Regions from separate parts of the Homo sapiens genome. Here region 1 is linked to region 2. A link means that fine-mapping ties the variant in region 2 to the expression of a gene that starts in the linked region. Tissue or cell type: whole blood. Region 2 holds a variant in brackets; the other region holds the start of a gene. All regions are shown on one strand. Distances are between the middles of the regions.

Region 1 (8,171 bases), 510 kb after region 2:
CATGTCTGTTTTCCACTGCCTTTAAGGCTCCAACTTTAACAATGCAAGAGGCTTGCAAAAAGACTGGCACTCTTCCCTGCAGAGCTGCATACACACCTGCACCATGATTCCAAGTAGCTGAAAGACGAGATCTGGAGAGCACTGGAGGAGCTGAGGGCCTGGGTGCTGCTGCAAACCAACAGCATGTTCACCAACATTTCTGTGACAAACTGCAAGAGGCCTGGCAGCAACAAAACCTATGCCAACATTCTGAATGTGATCTTAGCCACTTCACTTTCACCTTCCAAATCTTGCAGAAATTTTTCTTATGGTCAGCCCTAACCCAGATCATCTTGCAAAGGCAATTCCAAGAAACATAGTCCCAACTTAGCTAAAGTGACATAGTGCAAAGCCACCACATCTTGGTAAGCTGCTTTCATATTCCACTGTCCCATCCCCTCAAAACTGGTAGAAGTAGATGGTCTGCAACCCATTTCCTCATTTCAAATTTTAGTTCATTTCTTACTTGAAAAAATACATAATTAGTATCTTTACTACCTAAGCAAGCACTTTTATTATTTATTAGTATACAAGCAACCACCTTTATAGCAAAAAGTATTATGCATCTATAAATTACATTTATTCTTAAGGAAATTTCTAGCTCTCAGTATGCGTAAGATACATTCAATGAATCAAAAATCAACTTACATTTTAATAAAAAATATGTTTGGAGTATTGCACTGAGAAAGGTCCTGTGAGGAGGACAAAAAGACAAGCTACAGAGTGGGAGAAAATATTTACCAATCACATACTTGACAAAGTACATGTATCTAGAATATATAAAGAACTTCAATACTCAACATTTAAAAAAAACACTTAAAAATGGACAAAAGACACAAAGGCACATTTACCAAACTCTTTGGTTTAATATCAGATGTTCAATAGCTTCACCCATTAGGGAATGGTAAATTAATGAGGTACATATATAGGTGTGATATCACTACATACCTATCAAAATGGCTACAGTAAAAAACAGCAACAATACAAAGTGCTGGCAGAAATGCACAGAAACTGGATTACTCAGACACTGCGGCTAGGAACATCTGGAAAACAGTATGGCAGCTTCATATAAAGCATATGAACATGCAGCCACCATATGGCCCAGCAATTGGACTCCTGGGCATTTAGAACAGAGAAATAAAAATCTATGTTTACATAAAAACCTGTAAGTGAATTTTTATAGCAGCTTTATCCCAGCCAAAAGTTGGAAACAACCTAGATGTCCCCAACAGGTGAATGGTTATACAAACTGTGGTATATCCATACAATGGAATACAACTCAGCAATAAAAAGGAACAAACTATGGATACATGCAACAGCCTGAATGAAGATCCAGAGACATGCTGAGTGCAAGAAGCCAATCTCAACAGGTTACATACTATGTGATTCCATTTATACAACAGTATTAAAATGGCAAAATGATAATGGAGAACAGATTCATGGTTGTTATGGATTTGGGTGAGGGGATTATGGATTAGGCAGTTGTTATAGATTAGGTGTCCATGATTGCAATAAAGAAGTACTGAGGATCCTTGGGATGGAATTGTTCCGTATCTTGACTGTGGAGGTACTCTCTGAAATCTACACATATGATAAAGCTGCATAAAACTAAATACACACTTAGTAAAATAAAAAAAATAGAAGTACATATAAAATGGGTGAAATCTGACTAAATGCTGTAGATTGCATCAATATCAATTTCCTGGTTGTAATATTATACCATAATAATACAGGATGTTACCATTGGGGGAAATGGATAGAGTAGAAGGAATCTCTCTATTATTACTTAAAACTGCATGGGAATGCACAATTACATTAAAAAAGTTTTTAAAACGGGTTTGAAATCTCAAAGTTTTTGCTCAAACAAGCATAATTTAAGATACAGTTAAAATGGTTTGCACATATTTAAAGGGCCCCTTCAATTGTGTTTTCACTATCTAAAATAAAAATCATAAAGACGTAATCTATGTGAAGTATCTAGGCCAATGCTTGGTTCATAGCGAATAGTTAATAAATACGGCTTTCTGTCCTTCCTTGTACCATCCTGTAGAGTTGTATGGTTCTAAAATCACTGATATCCTCCAGCTTCATGCTATACCTCAGGTGAATATAAAGAAAACTGTCCAGTCTTATTTAAATCAATGCATGTGAGGACAGAAAGACTACTTAACATTCTCTTTCTGAAGAGGCAGTTATCTCTTTCCAATTAGTGCTGTGTTTCTCTTCTAGATTTGCAACTCAATCTTCTCAAAAAAAGAGTGTATCTTTCATAGGCAGTAGCATATAATATACAGCAAGCCATGCCTCTTAGACACCAAGCTGCTTGTTACAATCAATGATTACCACAAGAGTCCCTCAGCTCTCTTCCTCCTGAATCCCCCAACTCTCCTTTGCCCTTGTTCTGTCAACTCCTAGCCAATTTTCCTCTTAATCAATGGTCTTACTTCTTTGTCTACTCCCTCCACCCCTCCCTTATGTGCCTGCTGTCTCCATTATGAAGAAAAATAAAACATTTTAGGTGAGGTACAGTAGCTCATGCCCACAAGTCCAGCACACTGGGAGGCTGAGGCTTAAAGATCGCTTAGCCCAGGAGTTCAACACCAGCCTAGACAACATAGGAAGACCCCATATCTACAAAAAAAATTTTAAAATATATCTGGATGCACGGCATGTGCCAGTAGTAGTTCCAGCTACTTGGGAGGCTGAGGCAGGAGAATTGCTTATGCCCAGAAGTTTCAGGCTACAGTGAGCAATAATCATGCCACTGCACTCCAGGCTGGAGGACAGAGTGAGATCCCATCCCAAAAAAGAAAAAAAGAGAAAAGACAGAGAAAAAAGAAGAAAACCTTCTAGAAAGTCAAGAAGTGAAAACACCCTTCCCTACTCTCCAGCAAGTAGGCACAGGCATTTGACTCTGCCCTTTTTAATTGAAAAATACTCAGACCTGTGACCAGGATGGTCTCCATGGCTGTTACAAAGATAGCAAGCACATCTCATGCTGTGAACTTGCACATCCTAAATTAACCAACAACCCTGACTGTAATAATGAAAAAGCAGGTCAATCTAGAAGTGAAACATTTATATTTGTCCCAAGGAGATTTTAAGAAACATCTGGGAAACTGAATAGCGAGGTTAGCCAAGGTTATCTTTCAGTAGAAAACGAGAACAACTTTCTAAGAGAACAAATGTCTATAACACATTCTCTTCAAAGTCAAATATGTAATTTTCTCACTCTCCTTAAAAACATTAAACTTTCAGTGGAAGACGTAAGTCAAAAGCCCATGAATTGTTGCCGATTGCTATGGTTTCCTTTTCTGAGTCATCAGAGACACCTGTCAAGAGGCCTCAGCCTCTCATCCAGAGCAGGCTTTTCAAGCTGCCAACCCAGTCTCAAATAATCATTACCATAAACACGGGTTCCTATTACACCCGTTGCAAAAAGGCTTAAAACGCCGATAATAGCGCACCAATATTATTTCAACAGTTTTGACCGGCGCGTTAAAATGAACTTCAATGCTGAGCCACATTATAAAGGGTTGAGTCAAGCTCCTGATTGTGTAAGATAGCATTTCCCTTAAATGAGCACTTCTCTTCTTTCCTCAGAAGCTAGGCTTCTTTTCAAATTAAAGAAAATACTCCACCCCTCAAAAACCTGGCATATTCTCGGTTCCCTTTACGCTTATTCACACCAGAAACGCTGAATCATGACTCCGAGGTTGTAAAAGAAAAACTATTTCGGCTGGGGCCCCAGGGTCCCTGGAGAAGCCTAGGCTCTGCGTTACCTCTCTCTGCACCTTCTAAAGTCTAGATCCAGAGAAGTCTGGCAGATTGGAGAGCCTCTGGGAGCAGCCAAGGGTGCAAGGCGGGGGCTGGGGGGCTCGGGAGAGTTTTCTGCTCCCTCTCCTGAACCCACGCAGCCCTGTCAGCTCAAGGCTCCCGCCTCGTCTCATCTGAACGAAACCCTTAAGGGGCTGATACACTTCTCATCTGCAAAGCTGCCCAACAGCCTCCGAGAAATTCTCTACTTGGAAGCATCGCCACCACCGCCACCCCTCCGGAACCCTCTGGGTCCGCGCTAGTCCCACTTGGTCACGATCCGGCAGGCGAAGGGGTGCGGAGGCGGTTTCACCAGCCCGCTCCCAGCCCTGCCTCGAGAGAGAAGCCCGCTGAGAGGGCAGACAGTTGAGAAACTCGATCCCAACTCCCCAGCCGGCGCCTCCCGAACCGCCCCGAGAGCCCAGATTAGCCGGGCAGTGGATCCCGGAGCAAAGTGCCATGCACATCCTGGAGAGGAGGGAGGCGTGGAGGGAAAGGGCGGCAAAAATGAAATGCCCCCAAGTCAGTCCCGCAACTTCTCCCGGTCCGAGGGACGGGCGGAGGGTAGAGGAGGCAGCGGCGGCTAGCGCGAGGTGAGGGACTCACTTGAAGGTGAGGACGCAGAGCGGCCGGTAGGACTTGTGGCTGGTGTTCTCGGCCATGCCCTTGCCCCAGAAGTCGTTGGTGAAGATGCCCCAGCGGAGCGGGGCGCCGGGCCGCACGTCGGGGTTGTTCACGATCGCCCACACGTCGTCGTGCACGAACTCGCCCTGCAGGGAGCGGCCGTAGCACAGGCAGCTTGCCCCGGCCAGCAGCGCCGCGGCCCCGGCCGGCGCTAGCCCGCAGCCCCGCCGCCGGGAGGGTGTGCGGTCCCCGCCGCCGCCTCGGGCAGAGGTGGTCACCACCATCGCGCCGCCGCCGCCGCTGCTGCCCTGGCCTCTCCCGGGCGTCTGGCATCCTCCCCTACCGGGGCCCCGGCGGCGCGCGGCGTCTGCCCGGAGGGGGGCTCGGGCATGGTGCTGCGGCAGCTGGACCCGCCGCGAGCTCCCCGCGCTCCGCCGCCGCCTGCGCCGCGGAGTTGGCCCAGCTGCAAATAAACAGCAGTCCCCCCGCCTCCCCCGGCCATCGCCACCTCCTCCGCCCCACTGCGCATGCCCGCTCGCTCTCTCTTCCACCGCCCCCCAATCCCGGGACGCGGGCCGGTTCCCCCGCACAGCCCGGCGCCCTCTGCCCCCGGCCCGCCTTGCTTGCAGGTGGACCGGGGTTCGCGGCGCGCGGCTGCCCGGGAGCTGCGGGGAAGGACACCCCAGGTTCCCACTTGCGGTGTCCGGCTGTGCTCACCCCCACGCCCCCGCCCCCATCCTTCTCCCCCGAATGGGGCTGGGAAGGGGCACATCTGGCGGACCCCTCCCGGGGGACCCAGGAGGGTTTAGCAGGTGCGCAGTCTGGAACCCCCACACCCACCTTCCAGGGAGAAAAGTGCCGCTGCTTCCCGGGAAGTTCCCGGCTTTTCAGCACCCGGGACAACAGCAGCGGCGCCCGGAGAGACGCTCTCCACCCGCCCCGCGCTCGCGTCCAGTCGCCGGCTCTGTGCTCTCCTGCCCGGGCTTTCTCTCACCCGCCCGGCGCGGCGTCCCGCTTGGCGGAGGAACCCGCGGGGATAGGGAGCACCTTCCTCAAAGCCAGGAGAAGGGGTCTCCCTGGACAAGGACATCCTGCTCGCCCTGCCCGGGTGTGTTCAGAGGCGCCACCGGCTCTTTAACTTTACAGCCCCTTTCTTGGCCCGCACTTACAAAAAGTACCAGGTTCGAGTTTTGGTTTGGGCCTGGGAGCCGAATTGTCTTCTGAAACATTTCTTATTTTATTGTTTGCTCAAGATAATTTGGGAGATGCCAAGCAAACTACTTTTTCTATCTAGCTGGATCACTTGGGTCTCATTATTTCCTGGGCTGTGGGCGTGTTTGAACAGGGCGGGGAAGAAGGTGGGGATGGGGGGATGGGGAGGTGGGGGCGATTTGTATTAGGGCCTCTGGCTTTGGCTCCTAAACTTCCTGTCTTTCTGAAAGATTGTTTTCTTTTTTAAAATACTAATTTTAATAATATGTCCCAGAGTGATGATTACTAGAATTTCTCCAGGTCTGAAAATTCTATTTGTTCTTTCAGGCACCTTCTAAATTTCCATTGCTGAGTGTTAGAAGTTATCAGGAATTTGACACATCCAGATAGAAAAACTGAAAATAAAAAGTCACCCTTTTATTCTCATCCTCCCCAAACCCTTAAAAAGCTCACCGACATAATCCAGAAATTGTTCCTCTGCTATGAGTATTTGTGTGGCTCTTTACTATAACAACTTACTTTTTAAAAAATTTTAAGACATCTGAGCAGTTGAAAAGTCAATGAATTAAGATAAACTTATTGTAACTCAAAGTACGTTTCACCCATTTTCACTTTGTTTATTTGGTGACTTGAAATTAGTGACTGAGAAATGAAACTGGAAGTCCTGGACATGGATGTTTTCATTCTTCCATCAAAATCTTTCACGCTTGGTAACCTTAATATACCGACTTTAATATCTAGACACACCTGAGTCTATTTCCCCGTATAACACACTACAGCCTTTCCTATTCACCTATTAACTTAATAAAAATATATTAAGGAGATTCTTTGTGCTACAATGTGCTAAGTATAGGATTGGAAGACCCAAAGCTGCTCGTGTGTGTGCGTCTGTATGTGTGTGTGGTTAACACCATAAAAGTCTAGCTTTCTAAGTTAACAGCTGATTGGGATAGTGAAATTATCTTTGCTGAAATCATAGTTGAGGTAATAGGTCAATGTATCAATCCTTACCTATAATTAACGGAGGCTTTCTAGAGAGAACGTCTTAACCCAAAAGAGTGACTCTAGGCCAGGTGCAATGGCTCACACCCGCAATCCCAGCACTTTGGGAGGCCAAGGCAGGAGCGTTGCTTGAGGCCAGGAGTTCAAGACTGGCCTGGGCTACAGAGTGAGACCCTGCCTCAAAAAAGAAAAGAAAAGAGTGGCCTCTAATAGTAGATTTTTATAGAAAGAAAGTCTTTTTTCCTTCCTCAAATTATCCTTAAGTCATCCTTTTCCAAGGAAGAGCTCTGGCTACCCCCTTCTTCTCGGAGTTGTTTTCTTTTTTAGATGGAAACAGTATCAGAGTGCTCCATGACCATGGAGAGTAGTGCAGGACTTGGGACTGAGACTCCAAAGAGATCATAAAAAGAAGAGATAAAGGAAACCTGAAAGTAGGATTCCTGGTTACCTAATCTTTCCTCTAGGTTCAGTGGCATCTTTATTCTATTTTGCTCAGATGACAAATTTGAGATTGACTTAAAATAGTGAAATGCTTCAAGTCTTCTCAAGGACAACTGATCAGTGAATATTTTTAAAAATTAGTTCCTTCGGGCCTGGCATGGTGGCCCACCCCTGTAATCCCAGCACTTTGGGAGGCCTAGGTGGGCAGATCAGGTCAGGAGATCGAGACCATCCTGGTCAACATGGTGAAACCCTGTCTCTACTAAAAATACAAAAATAACCTAGGCGTGGTGGCACGCGCCTGTAGTCCCAGCTACTTGGGAGGCCAAGGCAGGAGAATGGCTTGAACCTGGGAGGTGGAGGTTGCAGTGAGCCAAGATCACGCCACTGCACTCCAGCCTGGGGACCGTGTGAGACTCTATCTCTAAAAATAATAATAATAATAATAATAATAATAATAATAATTAGTTTCTTTGCAGCCTCATCACCTCCTGATTCAATACTGCTCTGTGTGGTAGGAAAAGTATAGAAGTACTGATGTCAGAGAGAGGTTTACATTGATATGCCAGCCCATCAAGCCATTTGCTTCTCTCTTAAAGTGGAAAACATCCATCTTGACTAATAAAGGGGCCCAAAAGGAAGTTAGATTTAATTCTTGTTACTTAGCCTCTAATTATTTTTAAAGGATTGATAATTAGCGCAATACTACCTCCTGAAACGCCTTGTGTCCACTCAAAAGCAATTTATAATAAAACATGAATTATTGTAGAAGTACCTCTCTGAGGCTCATATAGATTAAGTCACTCATGCAAATTAAGATGGACCATATTTCTGAAAGAGATTAGGACACAACTAAAAATAAATCAAGGGCAAGCTATTGTAATAAAACCAATTTCAAATTACTGCTAACAACAATTCTTTGCTTGACCAAACTTTAGTTAGTCTTCTGAAACTTCCTAGCACCATCATTGTACTTCCTTGTAAAATCCAGTTTTAGCAAAGAACACTACTAAGTCAGTTTGGCAAGAGAGTGATCA
Region 2 (8,203 bases):
CTGTGCCTGGAGATGTCACTCAAAGAGGCTGGAGAGCAGCAAAGATGGGTCCCTGCTCCTTCTCCTGGGACCTCTGACCTCGAGGGGCACCAGCCTGATGCCAGTAGGATTGCTCCTGTATAGAGTGTCTGACAACCCCTGTAGGAAGGTCTCACCCTGTTGTGGCATTGGGAGTAGGACCGTTTAACGAACCACTTTGTCCCTTGGTGGAGAGGGTGTGTTTCACTGGGGGGAAACCCACTTGTCTGGGTTGCCCTGATTCCTCAGAACTACCAGGAGGAGAGGCTAAGTCTGCTGGTCCACAGAGACTGCAGCCACCTCTCCCCTTAGGGGCTCAGGACCAGGGAGATCAGAATTCTGTTCCTAAGCCTCTGGCTAGAGTTATTGGAGATCCTGCAGGGAAGCCCCTCCCCCACCAACGAGGAAGGATGGGTGGGGGTTAGGCCTGAAGAGGCACTCTGGCCGCAGACTGCCACAGTGTGTGTGTGGCTGCCACGGTGTGTAGGGCTGTGGGGACAAGTCTTGGGACCAAGCCATCCAGCCTTCCTGGCACTAGCAGGGGAAAAGCACAGCCTGGAGCTATAGAAATGGGTGCCACCCTTCCCCTGCCCAGGGAGCTTAGCCTGTTAGGCAGTTGCCAGTCCCAGTGCTGGCTGCTGCCCCTCCCCCAAGGAGCTCAAATGGCTTAGACAGCAGGTGATGGCAGCCAGGGCTCGTCGCCCCTCTGCCCCCAGGAGTTCAGTAGGCTTAAGCAGATTTTAGCTGAGAGGCTGTAAGAATCTGCACTTTCTCAGGTTGGGATGGTAGGCCCTGGTGGCCTGGGTTCCGGAGTGGGCTCTTCTGACCCATAGGTTGCACTGTTCCATGGAAAAAGCAGTTCCCCGGGCCGGGTAGCATGCTCACTCACCACCTCCCTTGGCTGGGGAGAGGGGACTCCCCTTCGCCGTGTGGCTCTCAGGTGGGCCACCGCACCACACTGCTCTTCCTTCTCTTGGTGGGTCACACCAGCCTTCTAGTCAATTTTGATGAGAGAACCTGGATAACTCTGTTGCTGGCGAAGGATTCACACGGTTATTGTGTTTGTTTTTCTTTTTCTTTTTTTTAATTATACTTTAAGTTTTAGGGTACGTGTGTGCAGGTTTGTTACATATGTATACGTGTGCCATGTTGGTGTGCTGCACCCATTAACTCGTCATTTAACATTAGGTATATCTCCTAATGCTATCCCTCCCCCCTCCCCCCACCCCACAACAGGCCCCGGTATGTGATGTTCCCCTTCCTGTGTCCATGTGTTCTCATTGTTCAGTTCCCACCTCTGAGTGAGAACATGTGGTGTTTGGTTTTTTGTCCTTGTGATAGTTTGCTGAGAATGATGGTTTCCAGCTTCATCCGTGTCCCTACAAAGGACATGAACTCATCATTTTTTATGGCTGCCTAGTATTCCATGATGTATATGTGCCACATTTTCTTAATCCAGTCTATCATTATTGGACATTTGGGTTGGTTCCAAGTCTTTGCTATTGTGAATAGTGCCGCAATAAACATACATGTGCATGTGTCTTTATAGCAGCATGACTTATAATCCTTTGGGTATTGTCAGGCCTCTGAGCCCAAGCTAAGCCATCATATCCCCTGTGACCTGCACGTACACATCCAGCTGGCCGGTTCCTGCCTTAACTGATGACATTCCACCACAAAAGATGTGAAAATGGCCTGTTCCTGCCTTAACTGATGACATTGTCTTGTGAAATTCCTTCTCCTGGCTCATTCTGGCTCAAAATCTCCGCCACTGAGTACCTTGTGACCCCCACTCCTGCCCGCCAGAGAACAATCCCCCTTTTTCCTTTACCTACCCAAATCCTATAAAACGGCCCCCACCCCTATCTCCCTTCGCTGACTCTCTTTTCGGACTCAGCCCGCCTGCACCCAGGTGAAATAAACAGCCTTGTTGCTCACACAAAGCCTGTTTGGTGGTCTCCTCAAATGGACGCGCATGAAATTTGGTGCCGTGACTCGGATCGGGGGACCTCCCTGGGAGATCAATCCCGTCCTCCTGCTCTTTGCTCCATGAGAAAGATCCACCTATGACCTCAGGTTGGCACCAAATTTCATGCGCGTCCATGTGAAGAGACCACCAAACAGGCTTTGTGTGAGCAATAAAGCTTTTAATCATCTGGGTGCAGGCGGGCTGAGTCCGAAAAGAGAGTCAGCGAAGGGAGACAGGGGTGGGGCCGTTTTATAGGATTTGGGTAGGTAAAGGAAAAAGGTGGGTTGTTCTCTGGCAGGCAGGAGTGGGGGTCACAAGGTACTCAATGGGGGAGCTTTTGAGCCAGGATGAGCCAGGAGAAGGAATTTCACAAGACGATGTCATCAGTTAAGGCAGGAACAGGCCATTTTCACTTCTTTTGTGGTGGAATGTCATCAGTTAAGGCAGGAACCGGCCATCTGGATGTGTACGTGCAGGTCACTGGGGATATGATGGCCTAGCTTGGGGTCAGAGGCCTGACAGGTATATACCCAGTAATGGGATGGCTGGGTCAAATGGTATTTCTAGTTCTAGATCCCTGAGGAATCGCCACACTGACTTCCACAATGGTTGAACTAGTTTACAGTCCCACCAACAGTGTAAAAGTGTTATGTTTGTTTTTCGATGGGAGCCTCCAATCACCCCTGCTTCTAGTAGGCCATCTTGGTCGCACCTCTGGACTTTGTTTTCCTCACATAGTAGACGTTTCGTGTTAGTCTGGGAGCTTTGTTGCCAACTATGCATTTCTAGATAAATATTGTGGCAGAGAGTCTTGTGGTCAACCCAATCTTTACCTACTGCTTCTTTCAATGCAGTGTTTTTTATAACACGGCAACATTGCTTTTGTTCTGGAAATCGTGATTATACTCTATGTAACTTATCTGTGAAACTGCCTTGCAAATCTCAGCACCTGTTTTCACTATTGGGCTATTTACTGTCAGCTGTTGACTTTTATGAACAGTGGTTCTCAAAGTGTGGTCCCAATATCAGCAGCATTCAAGATCACCTGAGAACTATCTGTTGTGATCAGATGGTACTTAACAGCCTGGGCTTCAGAGGCAGACAGACCTGGGTGTGAATCTCCATACGACCAA[T/C]TGTGAGTTGTGTGATAGTGGACTAGATATATACTTTGCTGAGCCTTGGTTTCTTTATCTGTAAAATGCTGTAATAATACCTTGCTTACCCAGGGAGTCTCTGCGTCTTTCTCTCTTGCCCTCAAGCCTTTCTGGATTTAAGGTATGGCTTTTACCACTATTTCCTAGGGCCTCACTTTTTACTAAGTTAGGCTGTATACTAAGTTATGCCAAAAAAAGAAGTGTTTTTTTTCCCATAAATTTTTCCCTCAAAGAGTTGTGGGAGGAAGGGAATCTGATGTGTATAATATAGTTGAAAAACACATCTACGGTAGATCACAAACCATGTCTACATGGCCATTTTGTGGGTAACAAGAACAGATTCTATCACCTGATTATTAATGCACAAGCCATTAGCTATGCAAATATCTACTTTCTTGTCACTATATGGAATCTGATACCTGTAAAGAGATTTTCCATGGAAAAAAATATGTGCTTGATTTTATTGCTGCGTATCCCAAAACTGAAAAGTTTTTGCTACAAAATTGTGTATGCTTCAGAATATAAGAATGCTATCGCTGATTGGCTGTGGATAAAGCTCTGTGCAAATAAGGAATTATGCAAGAAGTAGTTACTGGCCATCTATGAGATTCAAGATATTATTGCTTGTATTCCCTTTGAAATTGAAAATTCAAAATAAAGACAAGACAGATAAAATTGTATTTTTTTATATTTTTTAAGTTATGGGGATGAGCTATGTTTGAAAGGTGAAAGAAACCTCTAGATTTTATATATATATATATGTAAAATCTCTAGATTATATATATATATGTGTGTGTATGTGCCACTGCACTCCAGCCTGGGCAACAGAGTGAAACTCTGTCTCAAAAAAAAAAATAGATAAAATACGTTTTTTATAAAATATTTATTTATTTTGAGACGGAGTCTCACTCTGTCACCCAGCTGCTAGAGTGCAGTGGCTCTATCTCAGCTCACTGCAACCTCTGCCACCTGGGTTCAAGCGATTCTCCTGCCTCAGCCTCCCGAGTAGCTGGGATTACAGGCATCTGCCACCGCGCCTGGCTAATTTTTGTAGTTTTAGTAGAGACGGGGTTTCACCATCGTGGCCAGGCTGGTCTTGAACTCCTGACCTCGTGATCCACCCACCTCAGCCTCCCAAAGTGCTGGGATTACAGGCATGAGCCATCACGCCTGGCCATAAAATAGTTTTAATGCATAGCTGACCTTGAGGCAAAATAAGGAAATCCGTAAGTGTCCAGAAATAACAAGAAAGTACACACCTACACACAAAAAGAGTGAGAAAAGTTGAACAAGCACACAAATATGACAAGTATTTATTGAGAGCCAAATGTATGTCAGGCACTTATTGCTTTGTGCCTGGGGAACAGGGGCAATAAAGTAGAAAATAAAACAGGCATGGAATTGGCCTCACAGATCTTAAAGTCCAGTGAGGCAAACGAGTTTCATAAGAAACACATGTATATTTAAGTATTTTCAAAAGTACTGTGAAGACAAAGAACACGGCAATTTGAGAGAGAAAATAACAAGTGACGCCTGCTTTAAAATTATCTGCCGGAAAAGGACTCCAGAGATAGTGCCACTGGAGCTCAGGAAGAGTTAATATGTTCAAGAAAATGCAGGAGGGCATTTCTTTCAGGTAGATGCCTAGGCTCTGCCTACTTTGCATGCTTCTATCTGACTATGTAAGGCAAAAATTTATAGAAGTATAATCATGCCTTTGCTGCAAAATGAGAAATAGACATTTAAGAAGAAATTTCCATCTCATCGAATGAGCATTTTGGTGCTATAGTAATTGTTTCAATTTAAAACATTCATTTGTACATATTTTCTTTCTTTTTTTTTTTTTTTTTTTTGAGATAGGGTCTCACTCTGTTGCCCAGGTTGGAGTACAGTTCACAATCAGCTCACTGTAACCTTAAACTCCTGGGTTCAAAGGATTCTCTTGCCTCAACCTCCTGAGTTGCTGGGAATACAGGCACACACTGCCAAAGCTGGCTAATTTTCAAATTTTTGTACAGATGGGATCTCACTATGTTGCTTAGGCTGGTCTTGAACTTGTGGCCTCAAACAGTCCTCCTGCCTCAGTCTCCCAAAGTGCTAGGATTACAAGTGTGAGCCACCACACCTGGTTTATATATATTTTCAATAGTTTTAATAAAATATGTTTATATTTAATAAGATATATTTATACAAATTTTCAGTAGTTTTATAACAACAAAGTCCCTTAGAGGCAGAGGATAGACTTTTTTTAAATTTCTGAGACATGGTCTCACTCTTATCACTAAGGCTGGAGGGCACTGCATGATCATTGTTCACTGCAGCCTCAACCTCCCGGGCTCACGTGATCCACCCACCTCAGCCTCCCAAGTAGCTGGGACCACAAATATGTGACACCATGCCCAGCTATTGTTTTTAATTTTTTTTTTTTTAAGACATGGTGGTCTCACTACATTGTACAGGCTGATCTCAAACTCCTGGTTTCAAGCAATCTTCTGGTCTCAGCCTCCCAAAGTGCTGGGACTACAGGCATGAGCCACCACACCTGGCTAGAGAACAGACTTTTAACAACAAAAAAGTACTTTTTATTCTAAGGTTGAATTTAGGAGGCTGTATAAAGTAAAGGTGGGTAGATGAGACTGATTGCTTACAGAAAGCTAGCTTTGTGTGCTGGACTTGATACTATTACAGGTTTCTTGAAAGATCTGGGAAAAATGTTTAAAATTGCAACTGGAAGACATTTGCTAGACTAGAAATGGAGACTCCTAAGCACTCAGGAATTCAGCAAATGGCTGCTGGTTGGGTTTTTATTTTTATTTTTTGGATTTAAGATACTATCGAACTCTAGTTTAGTTCTTTCTGAATTGAAGACAACTAATTGATGGGTATGTTTCATATTAGTAAAAGCAAAAAGCTTATTAATTTATATTTTACATTAACAAAACCCATAGAGGGAAATTCTACTTTGCCTTTGTAACCCATATGTCAGCTTGGGCATCCCTGCCCTGTAATAAAAATGTAATTAATGACATTCTCCAAGAATCGTTGAGAATTCTCAGATGGCTCATTTTTCATGGTCATTTCTGCTGTTGCCTGGGATGAATTAGGTATGTTTATGAATCATCTTTCATTTCTCATGGGCTCCATACCAAGTTGATCCAGACCAGGCCAAGGCCCTTTCTTCAGTTGTCATAAATTTAGAATCAAACAACAAAAAGAGAGAACACTTGCCTCGGACTGCCTACCACTCACAGGACTTGCCTTTACCTCCCACACATGAATGCCCAATCTTTCAATAGGTCATCCTCTACCCTGTTAATTGAGGTTTTCTGTGTTTATTTTTCTCATCATTTTAAGTCTTCCATTTATTGTAATCTAGGAGAAAATGAGGTCACTGAGTTTGTTAATTCATTATGCTGAGTTTAGTACACAAATTCTAAGCAATATTTCACAGACATGGCTTTTTCTTGGTGCAATAAATATGGGCTTTTGTAAACTGTTTTTTGCTTTTTGGTCCCACAGCTATGTTTTGGATGGTTAAAGATGCTAAAAGTCTAAACCCTCAATTGCAGGTTACTTGTAGGTTTAGTTGTTATACCTGTACTGGGAGGTAGCATAAGGCAGTAAAAAGAACACTGATGCTCTAGATACTCTCTCCTCAATCAGAGAGATAGAGCTTGGTAGAGAGACCATGGCCTAGTTACCTAACCCATATGAGTCTTGTTTTTATTATTCATAAACTGTATCTGATAATAATAGCTATTTCATATGGATTTGCAAAGATCAAATGTGATCCTAAGTATAAAATAATGTTTTATATTGTGCAATATAATTTTTTTTTTTTTTGAGATGAAGTCTAGCTCTGTCACCCAGGCTGGAGTGGAGTGGCACAATCTCTGCTCACTGCAACCTCCACCACCCGGGTTCAAGTGATTCTCCTGCCTCAGCCTCCCAAGTAGCTGGGATTACAGGCACCCGCCACCATGCCTAGCTAATTTTTGTATTTCTGATAGAGATGGGGTTTCACCATGTTGGCCAGGCTTGTCTCAAACTCCTGACCTCAGGCGATCTGCCTGCCTCGGCCTCCCAAAGTATTGGGATTACAGGCATGAGCCACTACTCCCGGCTAAATGTTAGTTTTTTATCAGTAACCTCTCATTTCTTTTACCCAGGTATGTTATTTTGTTCGTTATCCCTAGGCAAGACCCTCTAGATTGCCTGTAACAGTTTCACACTCTTATCAAGGATGTATATATTCCTGCATTCTCTTTTCTATAGTTAGTCATCATTTCATTAGAAAGATATTTAAGAATTCACATTTATATTACAACATTTAATTTGAAAAAAACTTTTTGCGGGAAAGGAAAGTATAATCAGAAATTCATCTATCATCTTAAAGTCCTAGGTTTCACCAGTCTGTGCCATATGTGTTCACATTAACTCTCCATTCTGCATGAGTTGTACTAATGTGGGTGCTGAAGGAGATAAACCCCCCAAATCAGTAGCTTAATACAAATGAAATTTGATTCTCAAACACAGTAGGTGTAATTGGTAGAAGGCATTGCACTCCACAGTCATTCAAGGATCCATGCTAAGGGAAGGTTGCCATCTTCTACACATGGCTTCTAAACCATCCAAGGTCTCTCTGGATGACAATAAAAAACTGTCAGTGGGGTAAAAGAGGCACTGGACATCATGTGGAAGGTTTTTGTGGCCCAGGCCCAGAAGTGCCTATCACATCTGTCCATATTCCATTCTCAGAACTGTCACTGGGCATCTAACCACAAGGATGGCTGGAAAATGCATAGCTGTGTGTCCAGGAGAAAAGGAAAATAGGATTGTTGAACAACTAATGAGGTTCTGCCATGGCCTTCTTTTTAGGTCGCCAAATATCTGCTTTCCTCTCTTTCCCACACATAGAAGACACTCATTCCTACCCCAGGGTCTCATACCATTATTGCATCCAGTCCAAAGTCCAAGGGGGAATAGACTATCCTCTCTATCAGATCCAGATATTTCAGCTTCTGGTTTGGTATTCTTGGATAAAAAGGTGAATTTTCTGCCT

What was found. PIP is the estimated chance that this variant, and not a neighbour inherited with it, causes the effect.
Region 1: it holds the start of TMTC1, and the variant in region 2 is fine-mapped to the expression of TMTC1 in whole blood (INTERVAL, PIP 0.95).

What each region holds. Positions count from the first base shown.
Region 1 is chr12:29,778,989-29,787,159 of GRCh38, forward strand. TMTC1 (transmembrane O-mannosyltransferase targeting cadherins 1) reads right to left here and starts at 4,954. Exons shown (of 18, transcript NM_001193451.2): 1 at 4,462-4,954. The coding sequence starts at 4,763.
Region 2 is chr12:29,272,959-29,281,161 of GRCh38, forward strand. All of the region lies in intron 2 of FAR2 (fatty acyl-CoA reductase 2), which reads left to right. FAR2-AS1 (FAR2 antisense RNA 1) reads right to left here. Exons shown (of 7, transcript NR_103860.1): 7 at 7,457-8,203. Among named protein-coding and RNA genes, the nearest start is that of FAR2-AS1, 41 kb to the right of the region's middle. The variant T/C (reference allele first, on the strand shown) is at 3,121.